Linked DNA regions of Homo sapiens: region 1 is linked to region 2. The links come from fine-mapping of genetic effects on gene expression. A gene starts in region 2. The other region holds a variant in brackets. All regions are shown on one strand. Distances are between the middles of the regions. Region 1 holds the start of MTFR1L (mitochondrial fission regulator 1 like). Region 2 holds the start of STMN1 (stathmin 1).

Evidence for each region. PIP is the estimated chance that this variant, and not a neighbour inherited with it, causes the effect.
Region 1: its variant is fine-mapped to the expression of STMN1 in whole blood (TOPMed, PIP above 0.99).

Annotation. Positions count from the first base shown.
Region 1 is chr1:25,817,633-25,826,220 of GRCh38, forward strand. It overlaps SELENON (selenoprotein N), which reads left to right. Exons shown (of 12, transcript NM_206926.2): 12 at 1-589. MTFR1L (mitochondrial fission regulator 1 like) reads left to right here and starts at 2,322. Exons shown (of 7, transcript NM_001099625.2): 1 at 2,322-2,397; 2 at 5,387-5,496; 3 at 6,012-6,116. The coding sequence starts at 5,473. LOC646471 (a long non-coding RNA gene) reads right to left here and starts at 5,974. Exons shown (of 1, transcript NR_024498.1): 1 at 2,322-5,974. RefSeq lists enhancers at 365-865, 2,508-2,647, 3,028-3,117 and silencers at 2,108-2,297, 2,748-2,917. The variant A/G (reference allele first, on the strand shown) is at 3,411.
Region 2 is chr1:25,901,789-25,912,936 of GRCh38, forward strand. STMN1 (stathmin 1) reads right to left here and starts at 4,631. Exons shown (of 5, transcript NM_005563.4): 1 at 4,601-4,631; 2 at 2,876-2,950; 3 at 1,853-2,025. The coding sequence starts at 2,888. MIR3917 (microRNA 3917) reads right to left here and starts at 4,666; the gene lies at 4,574-4,666. LOC105376885 (a long non-coding RNA gene) reads left to right here and starts at 4,762. Exons shown (of 2, transcript XR_947102.1): 1 at 4,762-4,858; 2 at 5,248-6,455. RefSeq lists silencers at 3,570-3,864, 3,644-4,063, 4,454-4,543, 4,564-4,873.

The sequences.
Region 1 (8,588 bases), 85 kb before region 2:
CTCAGGGAAGTGAAGTGACTTGCCCAGGGTCACTCAGGTAGAGTTGAGATTCAAACCCACATGTGGCTCCAAAGTCTGCATCTGGATTTGGGGGTGTTTTTTGGCATGGCACCCTCACCTCTCTCCCTGCCTGTTTTCCCCAAAGTGGAAAGGAAGGCCTTTCAAACCAGAGTGTCTCACTCCCCTCTGACCTCCAGACCAGATGGGGCATGAGCCAGCCAGCTCAGCCAGGCTCCCTGTGTCCTGGGAGGAAGTGTCCCCATCCCCCATGCCCCTTATGGGGAGGGAGGGCGTCTGATGCTCTCTCTCTGCCTCCCCCCCCATCCTGTCAGGCACAGGTGACGGGGGCAGCCCATGCGAGCCCTTCTCCTGCTGCTCTGGGAGGGCCAGTTCCACATTGAGCCAGCCTGGTCCCATGGAAAATGATGGCCTGGGCTTTCTGAGGCCTTATCTGATGCCTCTGCAGTTCATGTCCCCCACCAGGCCTCGAGGCTCAGGGTGGGAGAGGGCCCCGGGCTGCCCTGTCACTCCTCTAACACTTCCCTCCCCTGTCCCCAACATGCCCTGTAATAAAATTAGAGAAGACTAACTAGAGTGGTTCTAAGTGCTTTTCCTTTGAGTGGCATGTTGCTCAGCTCCGTCCTTCCATGGGGTGGCTCCCTCTTGGGGCAGAGTTGAGCTGGAATGCTTTCAGGTACTATCTTACCTATCGAAGGCTTGAGTGACTTGCCCAAAATAAGTTTTACGATAGAACAAGTGGTAGGACTTACTGTTTTGAGAATCTGGTGCTCTCTGTTGAGAGAGATCTGGGAGTTAAAATCATTGTCTTAAAAGCAGAGCCTGAGACAGGCATGAAGTGTTTTTTTGTTTGTTTGTTTTGTTTGTTTGGTGGGGCTGGGGGGGAGTGTACTTCCAGAAAAACCAGTAAAAGAAGGAAGGAAGCAGAAGAGGGAAAGGAAAAATGCTGAGCAGGAACAGTCTCAGCCCAGCCTTGGCCTGACCCACAGTGGAAGAGCTGTGGGGCATAAACCACACTGCAGAGCTGAACTGGCCTTTTGGACCTTTTATCAGTCATTGGCTTGGGAGGTGAAGGAAATTCCCAGGTAGGGAGCTCCGTTCTTCCTGCAAGGGGATCTGAGTGGGACACCAAATCAGCATCTACACCCAGGACAGACAGCCAGCGTGGACTTGCATGATCCGCCATCGCACAGGAGGGAAAGGTAATGATTAAAACACAATGTGCCATCCTGGGAAGAGGGCCAGACCTGGAAGTCAATCTTCAGCGTTTGAGATATGGTGGAGATCAGGGTGGACGACCTCTGAGGTCTCTAGCCAGGACCAGTCACATAATTTGCACAGCCCCGTGCAAAATGAAAACACAAGAACCCCTATTAGAAAATCATTTCAAGACGGCAACAGCAAAGTACTAAACCAAGTACAGGATTCTGAGCATGCGGCCCGTTGTGACTGCATGGGCTGTTCACCCATGAAACCAGCTCTGTCTCTGGCAGAGGGGACTGCAGGCTTTGGAACCAAGGAACTCCAGCCTGGGAGCCAGGCACAGCCCGAGGCTGTGCTGAAGGCAGAGAAGGAAATGTGACCCAGGAACTGCATGCCACAGACCAAGACAGTGAGGGCTGGAGCACAAAGAGGGAGTGGGTTAGTGAGCCTGGAAGGAATGTGGCTCTTCCCACAGAGCCTCTGGAGTCTTGTACATCAAGTACCCATCTAATAAGCAAACTCATTGAATATACCGTGTGTGTGTGTGTGTGTGTGTGTGTGTGTGTGTGTGTGTGTGAGAGAGAGAGAGAGAGGCTAAAATAGAAGAAAGCTGCAAAGTGCTGGAGGGCAGGAGTCAAGAGGAGAAAGAGGCCCATTCTGCGCATTCTTGCTGGAGAGAGGCTTTGCAAAGGGACCTGCCTGGGAACCAAGAACTGGGAAGGGGGCCAGGGTGAGGATTCTGAAGTTTGCCCTAGGGGTAGGAGCATATTTTAGGGGTCGAGCGACACACCCCTGGGCTTCCAGAAGTCGGATGGGGCTAAACGTGGAGAGCAACAAGCAGGGAGACGCGACGAATACCAGGCCGAGGGATCTCCAAACGCAGCCAACTCCTCCCGGGGACACAGACCCCGCGGGGGCACGGTCTCGATGGAGGGGAGTGTGCTCCGCGGTATCGGAGCCTACAGCCGCCAGCGCCTCGCCCACTCGGGGGCCGCGCTCCCCTCGCCACCGAGCTGGACCCGCCTCCTGAGGGTGCGCGGAGGTGCGCCTCGGTGCGCAGCTGCGGAGGATCGCTTCCGGGGGGCGGGTCAGCGGAAGTGAGGGCGGTTGAGGCTGGGCGGCCCAAGGTGGAAGGAGGGGCCGTGAGGTGAGAGAGTCCGGGAGCCCGAGCTTGAGGTGAGAAAGGTTCTAGGGAGGCGCGGAGGCGGGAGCGCGACCTTCCAGCCCGTTAGTAGACTGGGTCTACGTGCCGGGCGCTGTGCGGAGCCCGCAGCTCCTGTTCCCGCGCGAGTTCTCGCGGGAGCCGCAGCTGTCCGTCTCACTTGGCCCGGGGGAAACTGAGTCCCCGAAGGGTAGTTGCTCGTCGGAGTTCCCCAGCAAACAGTGACCAAGCCAGACCTCAGGCTTCTAGTTTCGGCTTCGCTGCTTGACGGGCCGGGCTGCCCCGCCGCGCATTCTGAGACCTGGCCGCGGCTCGGAGGCTTCCGCGCACTCGGGTCCGGGTCCTGTGGGTCCAAGGGCCGCTGGGCAGGCGGCGAGCACTTGGCCGACCTTGGCCCAGGTCGGGTCGTCTGCCGCGGGGGAGGGGCGACTCGCCCTGGCGGGTCCCCGCGGGGAGAGGGTCCGCGCGGGTCTCCGGCCACTGCTGCGCGCGGCAAAGTTTCACTGAGCGCGGCGGCCTCCGTGGGGGCCCCCGGGACCAGGGGTGCTGAGCAGGGCCCTGCGCTGGAGGAGCTCCCGTTCTCCTGAGGGGACGCCTGTCAGCAGACAGCAACTGCAGCCTCCGGAGGGCTGCGGGGCGCAGAGGTGACAAGACCCACCGGTGCTGCCGGCGAACCGGGGGAAGATCTTCTAGCCAGTGACACTTGGGGGCGGGGGTGACAGCTGAGTTGGTGTTCCCCTTCATTCGTTTAGTTCAGCGCGTTGAAGCGCTCACTGTGTCCTAGGCAGACACCGTGCTGTGCGCGGGGATCACAGTTATCTAGTTCCTCTCGCGAGGACTCCGAGGGACAGGCAGGGTGCTGCGGAGCGCACAGGAAAGGACCTGACCCTGTCGCAGGGAAGGAAGGTGATGCTTAAGCTGAGCTCTGAGGAATGATGAAGAATGAGCTCGGCGAAGGGGGTGCTGGTGTTTGATGCAGGGCTCAGAGGTGGGCCCAGTGTTGGGGGTTGAGGGCCAGTGTGGCTGG[A/G]GGGCAAGGGGGAGAGCAGGAGGGCTGGCTGCGAAGCGTGCAGGCCTTGGTGCTCAGTGAATGTGGTCTAGAGACGGCAGAGAAAGATGGGTTTGGGACTGATTGTGGATTTTATCCTGTGTTGGCTCTAGTAAGCCAGTTTTAAACGGATGAGCGATGTGATTAACTGTGTTTGGGAAGGATTCCTCTGGCTGTGTGTGAGGGTTAGGCCCGGCTGGGTCTTTGGAGGTAAGGTCGGAGAGGAAGTGGCAGTAAGCACCGTTAGTGCAATTTGTGGCCGACACGGACATTCAGCACAGAGCCTGGCACACAGAGGGACTCTGATAATAAAGGCTTGAACTGAGCCGAGAAGATGGAGCCCACGCAGGAGGTGGCAGGACCTGGACCAGGCTTTGGGTGCTTTGCACTGGCATGACCACTGAGTGACCTTAGACAAGTGCCTTCCCCTGTCCAACTTCCTTTCCCCATGTGTATCGTGAAGTGAATGACACCTCGTCTCCCAAGGGTAGAAGAGGGGACCCTCCACAGGAGGTCTCCAGAAAGAGCTGCTTTGTCAGTCTAGTCTATCTCCCATTCAGAGCCTGTCCAGGGCTCCCCAGTGACCCGGACCTCATGACTTGCCCCCTACTTTTGTAGCTTTATCATGCTCTGCTCCTCTTTCCATGTCCTTCACCTTCTTGTGCTGGACCTGTGCTCTTGCTGTTTTGTCTTCATTTCCTACTCCCTCGCAACTTACTACAGGGCACTAGGGCCAGAGCTCTGACCTCATCTGGCCACCTGCCTAATGCTACTCAGCCTTTGCTAGAAGTATGTATTCATGTCCTATCACTCTGCTGGACAGCGAGTTCCTTGAGAGCATGACTGTGTCTTACTCCTTCCATAGCCCCTACGGTGCCCAGCACAAGGCCTGGCACAAGTGGGTACTGTTGGTGTTTGATGAACAAGTGAATGAACGAGCACACTGATTGCATCTGCTCACCATGCAAGGACTGCTGTGAAGAGCAGTCAGATGTCACCTCACCCATCTGTGTCATGTTTTAACAGTTCATTAAGCACTCAACCCCATTTCACTCATTGACCCTTAAGGTAGCCTCCAGTGGCAGCTTTTCCTGTCTCCTTTTTCCAGATGGAAAAACCAACATTCAGAAAAGTTAAATAACTTGCCTGTAGCTACAAAGCCAGAAGGTGGCTGAGCCAGGATAAACTTTTTTGGCTCTTTTTCTCTGTAGCTCATGAGACTGAGATTGGCATGAGCTGGTGTTCGTTCTCCTATTTTCTCTGATCTCTCCCTTTGCAAGGGCCCAGCAGTGCTTTTACATCTCATCTTCAAGAATGAATCCTGGGCTTGGATAGTACTTATAATTTGGCTAGATGAGCTTTGTAGCTACCAAGGATTCTATTTGCATCTTTAGAAGTTTTGCCTCAAGAAACCTGAGAGCCCAGGAAGGCTCTTGGGTTGGCCAAGCTCACTAGGCAAATCTTTTTTTTTTTTTTTTTTTTTTGAGACGGAGTCTCGCTCTGTCACCCAGGTTGGAGTGCAGTGGCGTGATCTCGGCTCACTGCAAGCTCTGCCTCCTGGGTTCACGCCATTCTCCTGCCTCAGCCTCCCAAGTAGCTGGTACTACAGGTGCCCGCCACCACACCTGGCTAATTTTTTGTATTTTTAGTAGAGACAGGGCTTCACTGTGTTAGCCAGGATGGTCTCGCTCTCCTGACCTCGTGATCCGCCCACCTCGGCCTCCCAAAGTGCTGGGATTACAGATGTGAGCCACTGCGCCTGGCCGCAGATCTTTAACAGAACCTTTAAGAGTCTGGACTTAGAGCTAAGTGTTGGGTGAGGGCAGCCTCTTGGGCTGGTTTTCTCCCCTGTGAAGTCATGGCTCTGCAGGGCCTGGTTTTTTGGGGCTTGTGTGGTGACCATTAAATCCCCACTGTGGGGGGTTGTTTCACAAGAGGGAAATCTGGTGCTCCTCCAGATGGCCTGATATGAAGGAGTCACGCCTCCCGCCTCCCGGAGCTGCCCAGTGGCTGCCTTGTCCTTCAAGTGCAGGAGCTGGTTCAAATGTCAGGAATGGAAGCCACTGTGGTAAGGGGCATTCCCAGGGCAGGGGTATGGTGGGGAAGGTTGGGTGCTGGGCCTGCTGAAGTACTGTAAAAGGTTCTGAGACTCTCCAGTTGAGCACTCCTTTCTCCAGAGGCCTGGAATTGGAGCAAGGCCACCGTTTCACTCCCTCCCCCTAAGAAGAACCAACTATGATCCTGGGGCACTTCAGGAGTCAGTGTATGTCTGCCTTTCTGTACAGAGGACGGGAAGGAAAGCCTGGATAATCTCTACACTCAGCTACTTCCTCTCCCCTTCCCTGACCCTCCCAACATTGACTGCCTTAGCAGCAGCAGGTATTCCCTTGGGTGGCTGGCCAGGGTGTAGGCTGGCAACTGGGGAACCTGCCCTCACTATAATTGAGAGTTGACTTGCCCCTAGAGAGTGCCCTGTCCCTAGGTTTGTGGAATTCAGTCTCCACAAACCTAGAGAGGAGAGGACAAGGACAGTAGTTGGATTCATTCTCTGGGGTTGTAGCTGTCTCCGTCTCTTTGCTCCAGACCATCCCAATCTGGCAAAACAAGCCACATGGGGCTGCTCGAAGTGTAGTAAGAAGAATTGGGACCAACCTACCCTTGAAGCCGTGTGCCCGGGCGTCCTTTGAGGTGAGTATGTTGGAAGGGCAGGAGAGTAGAGGCTCAGACAGTGCTGCTTCTGTGCCCCAAACCCCTTGGTACTGCCCAAGTAGGTTGTTTCCTGGTCACTTTTCATTCTGTTATGAAATATTTGTTAAATGCTTATAAGATATCCTGGTCACTGTGTCCTCCTGAGTGCATACAAACCTGTGACCACAAGGAACCTGACAGGTCCCCCACATGGGACACTGACTATTGTGATTTTTGAGTTGAACTCTGCTTTTCTTCACCAGCCCTAAGAATTGACCATGTAGCCAGTATTTTTATTTTATTATTTTTTGAGATGAGGTCTCCCTATGTTGCCCAGGCTAGGTCTTAAACTCCTGGGCTCAAGCAGTCCTCCTGCCTCAGCCTCCTATGTAGCTGGGATTACAGGCACAAGCCACCATGCCCAGCTCCACTATTTTTAGTGTTTCTCTGAGGCCATAATTCCTCAGCCTTCTCTTTTTGGCCAATCTGGGCATCCTTTACTGGGGTGCTTTGGTCTTACCTCTGTGTCTAGGGATCCTTTAGCACCCACTCAGCAGCAGAGATTCCTACCTGGCCCAGGTCTCTTGAGACCCCTTCTGTGGTAGAAAGCTAAGTAGCATTTATTAGTCCCAGCTGCCTCCCTCTAGGAACTAAATGGTTAAGCACCAGCCCCAAACTATATGGTTCAGATGTGTGCATTTGGAGAGCTGGGATACAAAAGAAATACTTGTGCTTTCTACCCACACAGAGGAGATAGAAATATGTGCATGAAAGGATGTGGGCCCAGGTAGAAACAGAAATGAAGGAGCCAAATCTGTATAAAAGATGCTAAGAAGCAGAGTCTGTAGGAACTGGATCTGGAATTAGAAGAGGTGTCAGGGTTGGTATTAGGGTCAGGAATGGAGTTGGAAGTGTCGCAGGGGTAGGGGGCAGGAAAAGCTGTCCCAGTATTCAGATTGCCAGCTATCCAGAATTGTCTAAAGATCCTGGGCAGGAACTGGTCCTAACTTGCCTCAGAAGCATCAGAAAAAAAAAAGGGAGACAGCTAGGGAGTGTGGCTCACTGCATAGAGGCCGTCCCCACACTTGGCTATACCCTCTTCAGTTCTTTGGCCAGATGCTGGGCAGAGACAATCAAGGGCACAGGCTCTCACAGAGCAGGAATGTATGTGAGCAGTATTGGTAATACTAGATAACATTTACTGAGCACATACTATGTGTCAGGCACTGTGCTGTACTTTATATTTGTTTACTCATTTAATTGCCAAGAGCAAAGGAGCATTCAGGGCTAATCAGGAAAACAAATGGAGGCTTCCCCCAAATGCCCTATTTTAGCACTAGTTCCTGGGTCACTGGAAGTTCTTCTCTGTGTGACCTTGGAGTATCACTTAACTCCTGTGAGTCCCAGGTTTCCTATCTAAATGCAGGAGCGATCAATCCTGGATCCATCTACCATACCAAATAATTTGTAGCAGAAACAGTTGAATCTTACTTGTGTGTAAATATGCATTTATTATTATTATTAAATTACCTTAAATATTATTTAAGGGACTCTTACCAATTTATTTTGAAAATTTAAGCATATGAAAATATTAAAATTATGAAAAGTAAAAGGAAAATAAATTACCTATAATTACATAGTAATAATACAATAACTATTAATGTCTTAGTGTAGTCCTCTTTTTCTAGATGGATGTTTTTTACTTTGTTGTAATCACAGTCAACATGACTGAATCCTAATTTTTCACTTTACTCAACATCTCTAGGTTGAGGAGCTATTTTAAGAAATCCTATTATGGTTCCTTTTGTATAATCATTTATTTTTATTTAAATCTAAATATATTCAAATTTTCAGGTTTGTTTAAAACAGCATTGCTGTAACAATGTAGATCTCAATTAGCTATACAGGATTATAAAAAGCTAGTCAGGAAAAATTTCCTATTGCTGTAACAGGTTGTGGATGACCTTGTACTTGTATTTTCACCAGAGGGCACAGTGGTTTTAGACAGTTGCCATCTCTACTAAAAGGTGACTCAGGCCTTTTCCACTGAAGACACAGAACTGTTTGTAATCCCATAGACTCTCATGTGTCTTGCCTGTTTTTGTTTTTGAATGTGGCTCTGTTGTCCACGCTAGAGTACAGTGGTGCAATCTCAGCTCACTGCAACCTCTGCCTCCCAGGTTCAAGCCATCTTCCCACCTCAGTCTCCTGAATAGCTGGGACTACAGGCGTATACCACCATACCCAGATAATTTTTGTATTTTTTGGTAGAGGCAGGGTTTTGCCATGTTGCCCAGGCTGATCTCAAACTCTTGGTCTCAAGCATTCTGCCTGCCTCGGCCTCCCAAATGCTGGGATTACAGGTGTGAGCCACCATGCCTGACTGTCATCTGGCCTCTGTTCAATGTTTTCGACCAGGAACCTTCTTCTGCCCCCTCTAGGAAGCCTTCCTGACACCCAGTGCCGGATTAG
Region 2 (11,148 bases):
CATTTGAGGTCAGGAGTTCAAGACCAGCCTGGCCAACATGGTGAAATCCTACCTATACTAAAAATACAAAAATTAGCCGGGCGTGGTGGCGGGTGCCTGTAGTCTAAGTTACTTGGGAGGCTGAGGCAGAAGAATTGCTTGAACCCGGGAGGTGGAGGTTGCAGTGAACTGAGATCGTGCCACTGCACTCCACCCTGGGTGACAGAGACTCTGCCTCAAAAAATAAAATGTATTCAGCATAAGTTAAAATTACAATAAAAATAATTTACTAAGGGGATTGAAAAGGGGCAGAAAATAAGGTCCCTTTAAATAACACCAAAATTAGGACCTGAATTATCCCTATCATAAAATACTGTGAAAATGATATTCTTTTTCTAGTATTTGTATTTAACTTTGGAAAAGTGCTTATCTGTTCAGAAATCTTACCCAATTAGTCCTTAAGGAAATCCTTGTAAGATTTACTGCTTAATGGTATCTGGATGACTTGAGGAATATGTACTTGCGAGTGGCACTTTTATTGTAAAGAATTTCACTATTTAACTTCAAAAGCTACCCAAAGAAAACTAGCTCATTGTAAAAATTTTAACCATAACTGATAAAACAATGATAGGAAATTCAAGACTAAGTCTGTAGATTACTATTTAAGACAGAAAAATTTGTTTCAAGGAAAAGGCTTATTAGCTTTTGTCTCAGGAAACTGCATTAATTACCAGACCATACCTTGGTATGACCCCTTCAACAGAACAGCTTGTTCTCAAAACACATTGGAACCACTGACTTGCAGGATAACCACAGAGCATCTGACACTGGTTCTATTGATTCTCTTCTGCCAAATCCTAGTCATGATGGGAGTTTCATTATATTTAGCCAGTTACTATGTAAAGCACAGGCTAATGACTACAGGGCCAGGGTTGATGTCTAAAAAGCTTTCCACTGTCCAACCTTTGGTTGTATTGCTTCCTCCTACTCCATGAACTCACACTATTGCATAGAAGACGACTCCTTAGTGTAAGCACTGAGGCTCTTCGGGCGGGTGTGTGTGTATACTACAAATCACTATGCTGGTCTGGGGAAGGTTATTACCTTACCTTTTGTGCCTCACTTGCCCCAGCTTTAAAATCAATCCTATCAGGGTTGTTGAGAAAGGGAGTTAAATGAAAAGTTATGTACAGTTGTTAATGAGTAACATTGAATGGAAAGAAACACACCAAAATGTTAACACTGGTTGCTTCTCGGAAGCGGGATAATGAATACTTTTAATTTCCATTTATAAATTTCTGTATTTCCCAAATTTTCTACAACTAGCATATTAATATTTATTGATTCTTCTGATTAGCTTTTAAAGATAGTTACTTTATAATAGAATTGTTTAGATAAGAGAAAAGCTACCATGATACCAGCTGAGCAACACAATCACACTAGCAATTTAAAATGTTATTGTACAGCTCTCAAAAAACAAAACCAAAGTGCCAAAGAATCATCTGGCAACAAATCTTTTCAAAGAGGAAGCATGAGAGAAGCATGAGCTTTGGTTTAAGATAGACCAGGGCTTGAATTCTGACCCCAACACTTACTAGTTGTATGACTGCAGAAAAACGACTTAACATTCCTGAAACTGTTTCTAATTTCCATTATTTGAGGCAACACCATGTATTAAAGGAGAAAAATATAAACAAAGGAGCGGGCATGTAACAGGAGTTCAATAAATGAGGACTGGTATTTCCTTCCAGTCACTGGCATATGTAATAATCACAGTGTAGCTACAATTCTGTTTTCTTCCTGTTATAGAAATAAAATTGATCTGCCCATTACATAAATTAATATCCTGCTTTCTGTGAATTGCTTCGTTTACCTTGCGTCTTTCTTCTGCAGCTTCTAATTTCTTCTGAATTTCCTCCAGGGAAAGATCCTTCTTCTTTGGAGGGGAAAGGGGGAATTCTGGAACAGATTCTTTTGACCGAGGGCTGAGAATCAGCTCAAAAGCCTGGCCTGAGGCACGCTTCTCCAGTTCTTTCACCTGGATATCTAGAATTGATTATATTTATAATTCAGAAAACCAGGATTCTCCTGTTCTAATAAACTGTACTATAATTTTCTAAAACCCAAATCAATTTAATGTATTAAACTAGGGCTGATGAGGAAAGTTGTGTTTTTTTTCCCCTTTTTATTCCTATCAGTCTACTGACACTAGGGGAAGATGTATTTGCAGGCAAGATATTATTATCTAAATACCATTTCCCAAGGCCAGGTACCATGGCTCATGCCTATAATCCCAGCACCGTGGGAGGCCAACATGGGAAGATCCCTTGAGCCCTGAAGTTTGAGACCAGCCTGGGCAACAAAGGGAAAGCCCATCTCTACAAAAAAAATTTTTTTTGATTAGGTGGGTGTGGTGGCCCATGTCGATAGTCCCAGATGCTATGGAGGCTGAGGTGGGAGAATCGCTTGAGCCCACTTGAGCTCCAGAAGTCAAGGCTGCAATGAGCTATAATTAAGCCACTGCACTCCAGCCTGGGCAACAAGGTGAGACCCTGTCTCAAAAAAAATAAAAACCATCTCCCAGAAAAACAAAGCTCAACATTTTTGGATTAATAAATACTGTTTTGAGACATCAGTATCTGACAATCGCTTTCATAAACAAAAGACTTGTGCAAACTCCACAATTTTGCTTCAGACTAAGCCAAACTGTCCAATAAACAATTACGAGCTCTCGGCACATTCAAGTGATAATCATTTTTAAATTCTTCTCCTATTCATAAAATAGGTTTTGGTAAGACCAAAACATAAGTGCCAAATCAAAGGCGAAGACCTGAGCCATCTCAATCTAAAATCATAAGCCCATTACAATTTCAGATTTTCCAAATAGATTACCTACCAGAAGAAGCCATGGTGAATAGAAGACAAGCGACAGGCAGTGTATTCTGCACAATCAACTGGGATAAGGAAAGTCCTGAAAATGATTTTCAAAAACATGCAATCACTTTCTTTGCCTTTCTATATGTCATCAACCCAAAAAAATCTCACATCACATCTACATACATCGTCAGAAAAATACGTGGAATAAAGACGTCTAAATTAACCACGAAAAAAATTATCAAAATCTACTAAATAAACATTGGGAAATATGACCTGAATATGATATTGGTTCCAGAAAATCAAGTTAACTGAGCTTTCTCGGTCATAAAACTCTTGGATTTTTAAAATCAGACAAAGTCACAAGGGTGAAGAATTTTTCCCCCATAAACTCTTTAACATTTCACCGAAACTGTAAGAAGATATTCCAGATTCAACTCAACAGTGCCCCCGGAGCCATCTTAATACTGCCTACAACTCATTGTGCAAATGAAATACCCACCCCTGCTTTGTCTGTGTCTGACGTGGTGGATAAGAAAACGCCCAAGCTAATAGTAACCAATAATGTTGAACTCCTATTGTCCCTCAGGTTTAAGCTTCCTTGCCCAACAGCAAGCAAAATGTTTATGAACCTCTAGATTTTGACTTATATTTGCTGCCGTTATGTCATGAAAAATGCTGTATCTCTTGTTGATCTTTTTAACATTATGACTTTTGTAGACGCCAGCTAGTACCAAAAACGTAGGATGACAGGTTCCCAAAAGCTAGGAATTAAAATCAGAGGCAGCGACAAGATTTAAGAAAAGCAGAGAATTAGACGCAGCACCGGACCCAGGATGGGCGTGGCCCTGGTCCGGGCGAGGAAAAGAGGACCGGTCGCCCCCGGCCAATCAGAGCACGCCTTGCGCTCCGGCCCCTGGCCCCGCCCCCTTCCTCCCCGCGCCTTTTCGAATCTCCCCGAACTCAACACCCCGGAGCCCGCGCGCGTGGGAAGGGGAGGGGTGGGCGGGGCTAACGGTCCAATCCGGGTAACTCCGCCCCTGCCTGACTCCCCCTGCGCGGACGCCCCCCCCAACTCCCGCCAAAAACACCTCCAGGCCGCCGCCACCACCCCCTTCACAGTTCAGCGGGTGGGGCAGGCCCCGGGAACAGGCCCCCGGGTGGTCCCGCGGTGAGCTCGCCACCGCCTCCCGCCGTCCCCATGCCCAACCTGCCGCCACCCACGCTGTCCGCGCGTCCGGCCGCGAAGACAGAAGAACCCTCGTGGGGCCCGGGAGCGCCGCCCCTCAATCACCAGCTGCGGTCGCCAGGGGACGGTCGCAGGGAGGGTCGCGGCCCTGGCTGCCCGCAGTTTGGTCCTAAAGCCGCTGGTCCCTGGGGCACCGCCCCGTCCCTTCAGACAATGGGGAACCCGGCGGGGCCCGCAGGGAAGGGAGGGAGGGAGGGAGGTAAACGAGGGCCCACGCCCCCTATTGTCTCCTCGACGGCACCCCGGAGCGGACGCCCGGTGATCGCCCAGCCCCCTGCCCACGAACAGCCGCGCCCCCGGAGAGCGGGGACAAAGGCGAGGCTCCGCCCGAGCCACACACAAAGCGGAGCGACCCCCGCCCACCAACCCCTCCGAGGCCCGCAGCCCCGCCCGCCGCCCTGCAGCAGGGGGTCGCTGCCACGGCCCAGCCCCTCCCGCCGACCGCGTCCCTCTTGCTGGCCTCAGCCAGCCGCCGCCTCCTCCGAGCCCCGCACCCACCTGCTCAGTCCGAGCCGCCTGACCACACTCTGAGCACCAACAGACCCGGGCGCGCACAAAAGCGCCAAACAGAGGCACGTGACCTCCGCGCGGGGCTCCGCATTGGCCGAGAGCGGCGGCACGTGCCGCCCCCGCCCCCCACAACCCGCGTGGAGCGCCGCCCCCCGGGACCCCGAAGCACCTCGGGAAGTGTAGTCCTGTCCCGGAGGGCAGGAGGACAATGCCGGGGGTTGCAGGGCGCCTGGGGAGCATCCCCAGGTGTGGGCCTGGGACTAGGGGGGTGGTCTCGCCGTGGAAGAGGGCGTGGCAGTGGACCCCGGACTAGGTCCGAACCAGCTCCCCATTCTCGAGAACAAGGGCAGGGCGGAGCAGGCGGAGGGCGGGGGGGTCCTTCCCTACCTTTCCAAACTTTGGCCGCCTGGACTCCACCTTGTAGAGCCACATGCCCGCCTCGCCCCAAGGGCAGCACTCGGACAGAGCAGTGCCCCTTCTAGTGCGCCACCCACATGGGTGCCTAAGACGCCCGAGCCCCTGTGACAGCACAATGCCACTCCACGCCCCTGCAGGGCCCCCTGCCCCCGGCACCCTACACCGACACCGGCGTGTCACCCATATTGTGACATCATCGTAATTTCTAATCCACTCAGCCCACAGGTCGCGGGCGTGGCCCTTCCCTCACTGTGTGCGTTCTTGCCAGCATCCTCAGGTTCCCGAGCCGGTGACCAGGGACCTGTGCGGGAAAGCGTGGGGCTCTGGAATTTGATCGCCTTTGGTCTAACAAAGCCACTCAGCTTAAATGCAGACTCCATCTGTTCTTCCAAGCCTTCTGCGGATGATAGGGGAGGAAGAGCAATAGCCGTTCTAGACTACACAGATTGCAGTTAAGTGTTGCTTTTGTTCTCAGAGCACGTGCTCCCCAGAGCAGCACTGGGTTCTTTTTAAAAATCGAAAAAGGAGCCACAAGGTCACTGTTCTCCCTGACCTGGATAGCTCAGAACCTCAGCAAAGGCACAAAGGAAATTGGTCTGACCGTGCCTTAGAATAACTGGCCCTTTCTCTCACAAAAAGGGGAAAAAAATAAATGAAATGAACATGGTCCCCGCCTCCTCCCATTCTCTGACCAAGACCGTGTCCTCGGTTGGTGGTCAATACACCAAGACACCTGCTTTGAGATCTTGACTAAGCAGAAGAGATATCTTTATTTTATTAATGAGCTGCATCTCCCCAAATCAAGAAACAAATGTGACCAACCTTCCTGAAACAACAGTCCTAATTTAGAAAGACTCTCATGCCTAGTTAGTCACCAGGGATGTGCCAGAGATAAAATACAACTAAGGGGTGCCCAAGACAATAAAAACTGGATCATACAAGCAGCAGCACACTACACAAAGCAAACAATTAGCAATGCGCTGTTGCCTGAAATATGCTTGTTGCGGCATTTTTTCCAACAATCGCCCTTGTGTGGGGTCGGCCTCCCCCCCAAGCCAATCGAAGTGGTTTTCACTTAGCCTGTGAGCAGGACCAGGAATAATTCAGATACTGAGCCTTGAAAGGCTTCTTCTCAGACCAAACTTAGCTTCAAAATGGCTAGGTGCTTCCGTCTGTCATTTTTCTGAACAGAATCTCAGACATCATTAGAAAAGTTGGAGAAGGATGGGCATGAGACCCCTCAGGAAAGCGACAGATAGGCAGGCAACACAAATGAGCAAGGAACCCAAGCCCAAGAGGTCCTTACCCACTGAACAGGCTTTTTATCTTGAAGTCTTTGTATTTGATCTGGAGGTTCACAGAGGAAGGTCCCACTCATTTAATGCATTTTTTTAAGTACAATAAATTGCCACACAAAAGTCTCACATTCCTGACTATTAATGTTGTGACAGAAAAAAGAAATAAATCTTTCAAAACACTGATAATTTGAAAGCACTTACACTGCTTCCCCCCACATTTTCTTTCTCCCTAGAGCAGATGTCTATTTCCATGGAAACCATAGCAAGGAACGTAGATGTTAGAACTCATGTTCATTTTTAATCTTTTTTAGCAATGCCACTTGGCTTCTGGGTTTGTTGGGAGATGCCTGGTTCTGCCAGTCTGTGACAATGTTCCAAGCTCCTCACAGCTGCTTGAGGACTGAGAGGGCTGGGTTAAAGTTTCCCCTAGAATGAGCCTTTGAATAAAAAGGTGCTTTTGAGGTGGGATTCCTGTCCTTTTATTATTATTATTATTATTATTATTATTATTATTATTATTATTATTATTTGACTTAAAAAAAATTGAGACAGGGTCTCACTATGTTGCCCAGGTTGGCCTCGAACTCCTGGGTTCAAGCAATCCTCTTGTCTCAGCCTCCCAAAGTGCTGGGATTACAGGCATGAGCCACCACACCCAGTCTGATCCTTGTTCTTTAGGGTGGGGCTGCCTTCCCAAGAGCCAGATCACAGCTCATTATTGTCAGCTTTTGTGGGTGTCCTATATAAGCCTTGGAATAGGAAGGGCTTTCAACTGTAAGGAGAGACAACAGTTTTGCCACTTCACCTTGGAGAGGGGCAGAATCGCCCTTCTCGAAAGCTTCCTAAAACGAACTTCAAGATCCACTCTCTTCTGAAGTGGCAGCAAGGAGTTAATGTTCACATCTTGGAACTGTCTATCTTTGCCCATAAGAATTATTTTTGCTTCTGCTCAGATGGTTTGGTTGGATTGTTATGGAGCTGGCTGTGACTATGGAGCCACACAACGAAGTGGAGATAGGGCAGTCATCCAGCTTATTTGATCTGTGTAGACAGCTAAAGGAGAGCACTTCAGGCTTCAAAGTCTAGAAGGAATGTCTACACTGATCAAACGGCGGGCCAGGCCGTTGTCAGATCTCCTCTCCTGCCAGAGAGCCCGGCAGCCTTTGTTCATTGTTGGGCTTGAGGCTGCAGGGTTTGTCTCCCACATGGCGCCTCCAAGTTCCACAGCTGCTTTCGAGGCCTGTCCTCGGCCAAAGGGTGTCGTGGGAGAGGTTTGCTTGTTGTCCCCGGTCTCTCTGTTCCCTTTGTCTCCTAATCCTCAAGCACTATGCTCTAACACTCCCTTCTCTATTCAAAACCTGTCTATGAGTCTGCTGTTTTACACATCGATCTCCCTCACTAGACCATTAGGTCCTAGAGGGCAGGGTGCTGTCTTTGTCTTGGTATCCCTAGTGCAGTGCCCATCCTCAGGCCTGGCCCAGGATGATGGCGCCTGAATGTTTGCAGAGAACTTTGGGAAAGAACAACCTCTTGGCCGGGCACGCTGGCTCACACCTCTAATCCCAGCACTTTGGGAGGCTGAGGCAGGCGGATCACAAGGTCAGGAGATCGAGACCATCCTGGCTAACACGATGAAACCCCGTCTCTACTAAAAATACAAAAAATTAGCCAGGCATGGTGGCGGGCGCCTGTAGTCCCAGCTACGCACGAGGCTGAGGCAGGAGAATGGCATGAACCTGGGAGGTGGAGGTTGCAGTGAGCCGAGTTCACGCCACTGCCTTCCAGCCTGGGCGACACAGCAAGACTCCGTCTCACAAAAAAAAAAAAAAAGAACAACCTCTCTCATCCTTCTGTGATCTTCTGTCTCTTCTGTGATATTAGACACTTGCACTCTGGGAGTGGTGAGGATTAAATGAAATAATGTAAATGAAAACAGCACAATGCCTGGCACATTTAAAGTGCTGTGCACTTGTTAGGTATCATTGCTAGAGATGTTTCCTGATTGCTATAGATTATTTTATTTTTATTTTTTGAGACGGAGTTTTGCTTTTGTTGCCCAGGCTGCAGTGCAGTGGTGCAATCTCAGCTCACTGCAACCTCCGCCTCCCAGGTTCAAGCGATTCTCCCGCCTCAGCCTCCTGAGTAGCTGGGATTACAGGTGTGCGCCACCATGCCCAGCTAATTTTTTGTATTTTTAGTAGAGATGGGGTTTCATCACGTTGATCAGGCTGGTCTCAAACTCCTGACCTCAGGTGATCCACCTGCCTCGGCCTCCCAAAGTGCAGGGATTACAGGCGTGAGCCGCGGTGCCTGGCCTGCTATAGGTTATTGAATGAGTGAATGACTATTAGACTTTCACCCTTTGATGGAAATTGTAGTTACTGGGTTAACTCTTCCCATGGGGTTAAATTCAATTCATTTAACACTTTATTTTTTATTTTTATTTTTATTTTTATTTTTTTGAGCAACAAGGCTGTTTATTTCACCTGGATGCAGGCGGGCTGAGTCCGAAAAGAGAGTCAGCAAAGGGTGGTGGGATTATCATTGGTTCTTATAGGTTTTGGGATAGGCAGTAGAGTTAAGAGCAATGTTTTGGGGGCAGGGGATGGATCTCACAAAGTACATTCTCAAGGGTGGGGAGAATTACAAAGAAACTTCTTAAGGGTGGGTGACATTATAAAGAACCTTCTTAAGGGTGGGGGAGATTACAAAGTACATTGATCAGTTAAGGTGGGGCAGAAACAAATCACAATGGTGGAATGTCATCAGTTAAGGCTATTTTCACTTCTGTGGATCTTCAGTTGCTTCAGGCCATCTTGATATATACGTGCAGGTCACTGGGGATATGATGGCTTAGCTTGGGCTCAGAGGCCTGACATTCCTGTCCTCCACTGTAAGAGTTACCCGAAGCTCGGCGTCCATGATGGCCCAGGGGGCTTCCGAGGCGATCGGGCTGTGTCAGTCTTCAGTCGCTAAGCCGAGAAGATCCAATTTAAAATCAGTGAGATGTTCCTTGGGCTGGTTGGTCTGTTCATAAATTTGGAAAGGAGAGCTTTATTTCTCATAAAGATTTGCAGCCTATAGGGTGGCCATTCTTACAGGCTGGGAAATGTAGCCTCTGGTCAGAAGCTCTCATGTAACACTTTAAATAGGTAACACATTCACATGGTTTAAAAATAAAGTATAAGAAGCCCTCCTTATCTTCCAAGTTCTCTACCAACCACTCCCCCACCATAATCTCTGTTAATCAGTTTCCTGTGTATCCAGGAGTTTCTTCATGTGTACACAAGCAAACTTGTAGGTATGCATTCATATCCCCTCTCTTTTTACACACATGATAGCCTCCTGTAACTGTTCTTTGCTTAGCAGTTTTCACTTAACAATACATGTCAGGGTCTGGGTGTGGTAGCTCACACCTGTAATCCCAGCACTTTGGGAAGCCAGGGCAGAATAATCACCTGAGGCTTAGAGTTTGAGACCACCCTGGGCTACATAGCAAGAACCTGTCTCTACAAATAAATGAAAAAATACAAATAAATAAATAAAATTAGCTGGGCATGGTGGCACGGGCCTGTAGTCCTAGCTAAGGTGGGAGGACCACCTGCAGTGAGCCATGATCACGCCGCTGTTCCCCAGCCTGGGTGACAGAACGAGACCCTGTCTCTTTGTTTTTTGAGTCAGAATCTTACTCTGTAACCCAAGCTGAAGGAGACAGGATCTCGCTCTGTCACCCAGGCTGGAGTGCAGCGGCACAATCTCAACTCATTACAACCTCCGCCTCCTGGGTTCAAGGGATTCTCCTGCCTTAGCCTCCTGAGTAACTGGGATTACAGGCACATGTCACCACGCCTGGCTAATTTTTTGTATTTTTAGTAGAGATGGGTTTTCACCATGTTGGCCAGGCTGGCTTTGAACTACTGACCTCAAGTGATCCACCCGCCTTGACTTCCCAAAGTGCTGGGATTACAGATGTGAGCCACCACACCTGGCCAGAGACGCTGTCTCTTAAACAAACAAACAAAAACCACGTCAGGGGTCTTTTCCCTGTTCATACATCAAGGATTTCTTTGATCTGGTGTCCATGGTATGAATATTCCAAGATGCAGTTAACCAGTGGGATATCTGTGGCTCTTTAGGTTATTCCCAGTTATTCAGAATAGCTCACCATGCTGTAATGAATGACCTAGTTCATATGGCATTTCCTATGGGTGTGAGTATATCTGCAAGACATATTCCTAGAAATGGTATTTCAGGGCTAAAAGGCAAGCACATTTGTAATTTGGATGGTGCCAAATTGCCTTCCACGTTGTACCAATTCAACACTCACCATGTGGCACTTTAATTCATTATCTCAACTCATTCAAAAATGATTTGCAAGGCTTTGTCCCTAGAAATTTCAGGCATTAGAGAAAAGGAGGGGGAGGAGCCAAAATCCCAAGAAAGACATGGCTGTCAATTCTGTCTATATTAATAACTCCTATAAATATTTGACTAGCAACAGGCTGATCTCAGAACAGCTCTAGTGCCTGCACTGTGGCACCCGTCTCAGTCCTGTGACTCACATGGCTGCAATGAGATTGGAAGTGCACTTCCATTGGAAGAGACTGGACTGCACTGAGATTGGAAGTGCGCTGTGAGACTGGAAGCTTTCTGAAGGCAGGGTCTTTCTCATTGCTGTATCTCACTCCCCTCCCAATGTGCCTGGCACAGATCTTATTTATTTAATTAATTCTAAGATGTATTTTTTCCCCCACATTTTTTATCTTTGAAATCAGTTGGTCCTCATAGTCAATAAATAGCATGTTATAATTATTGGCAGCA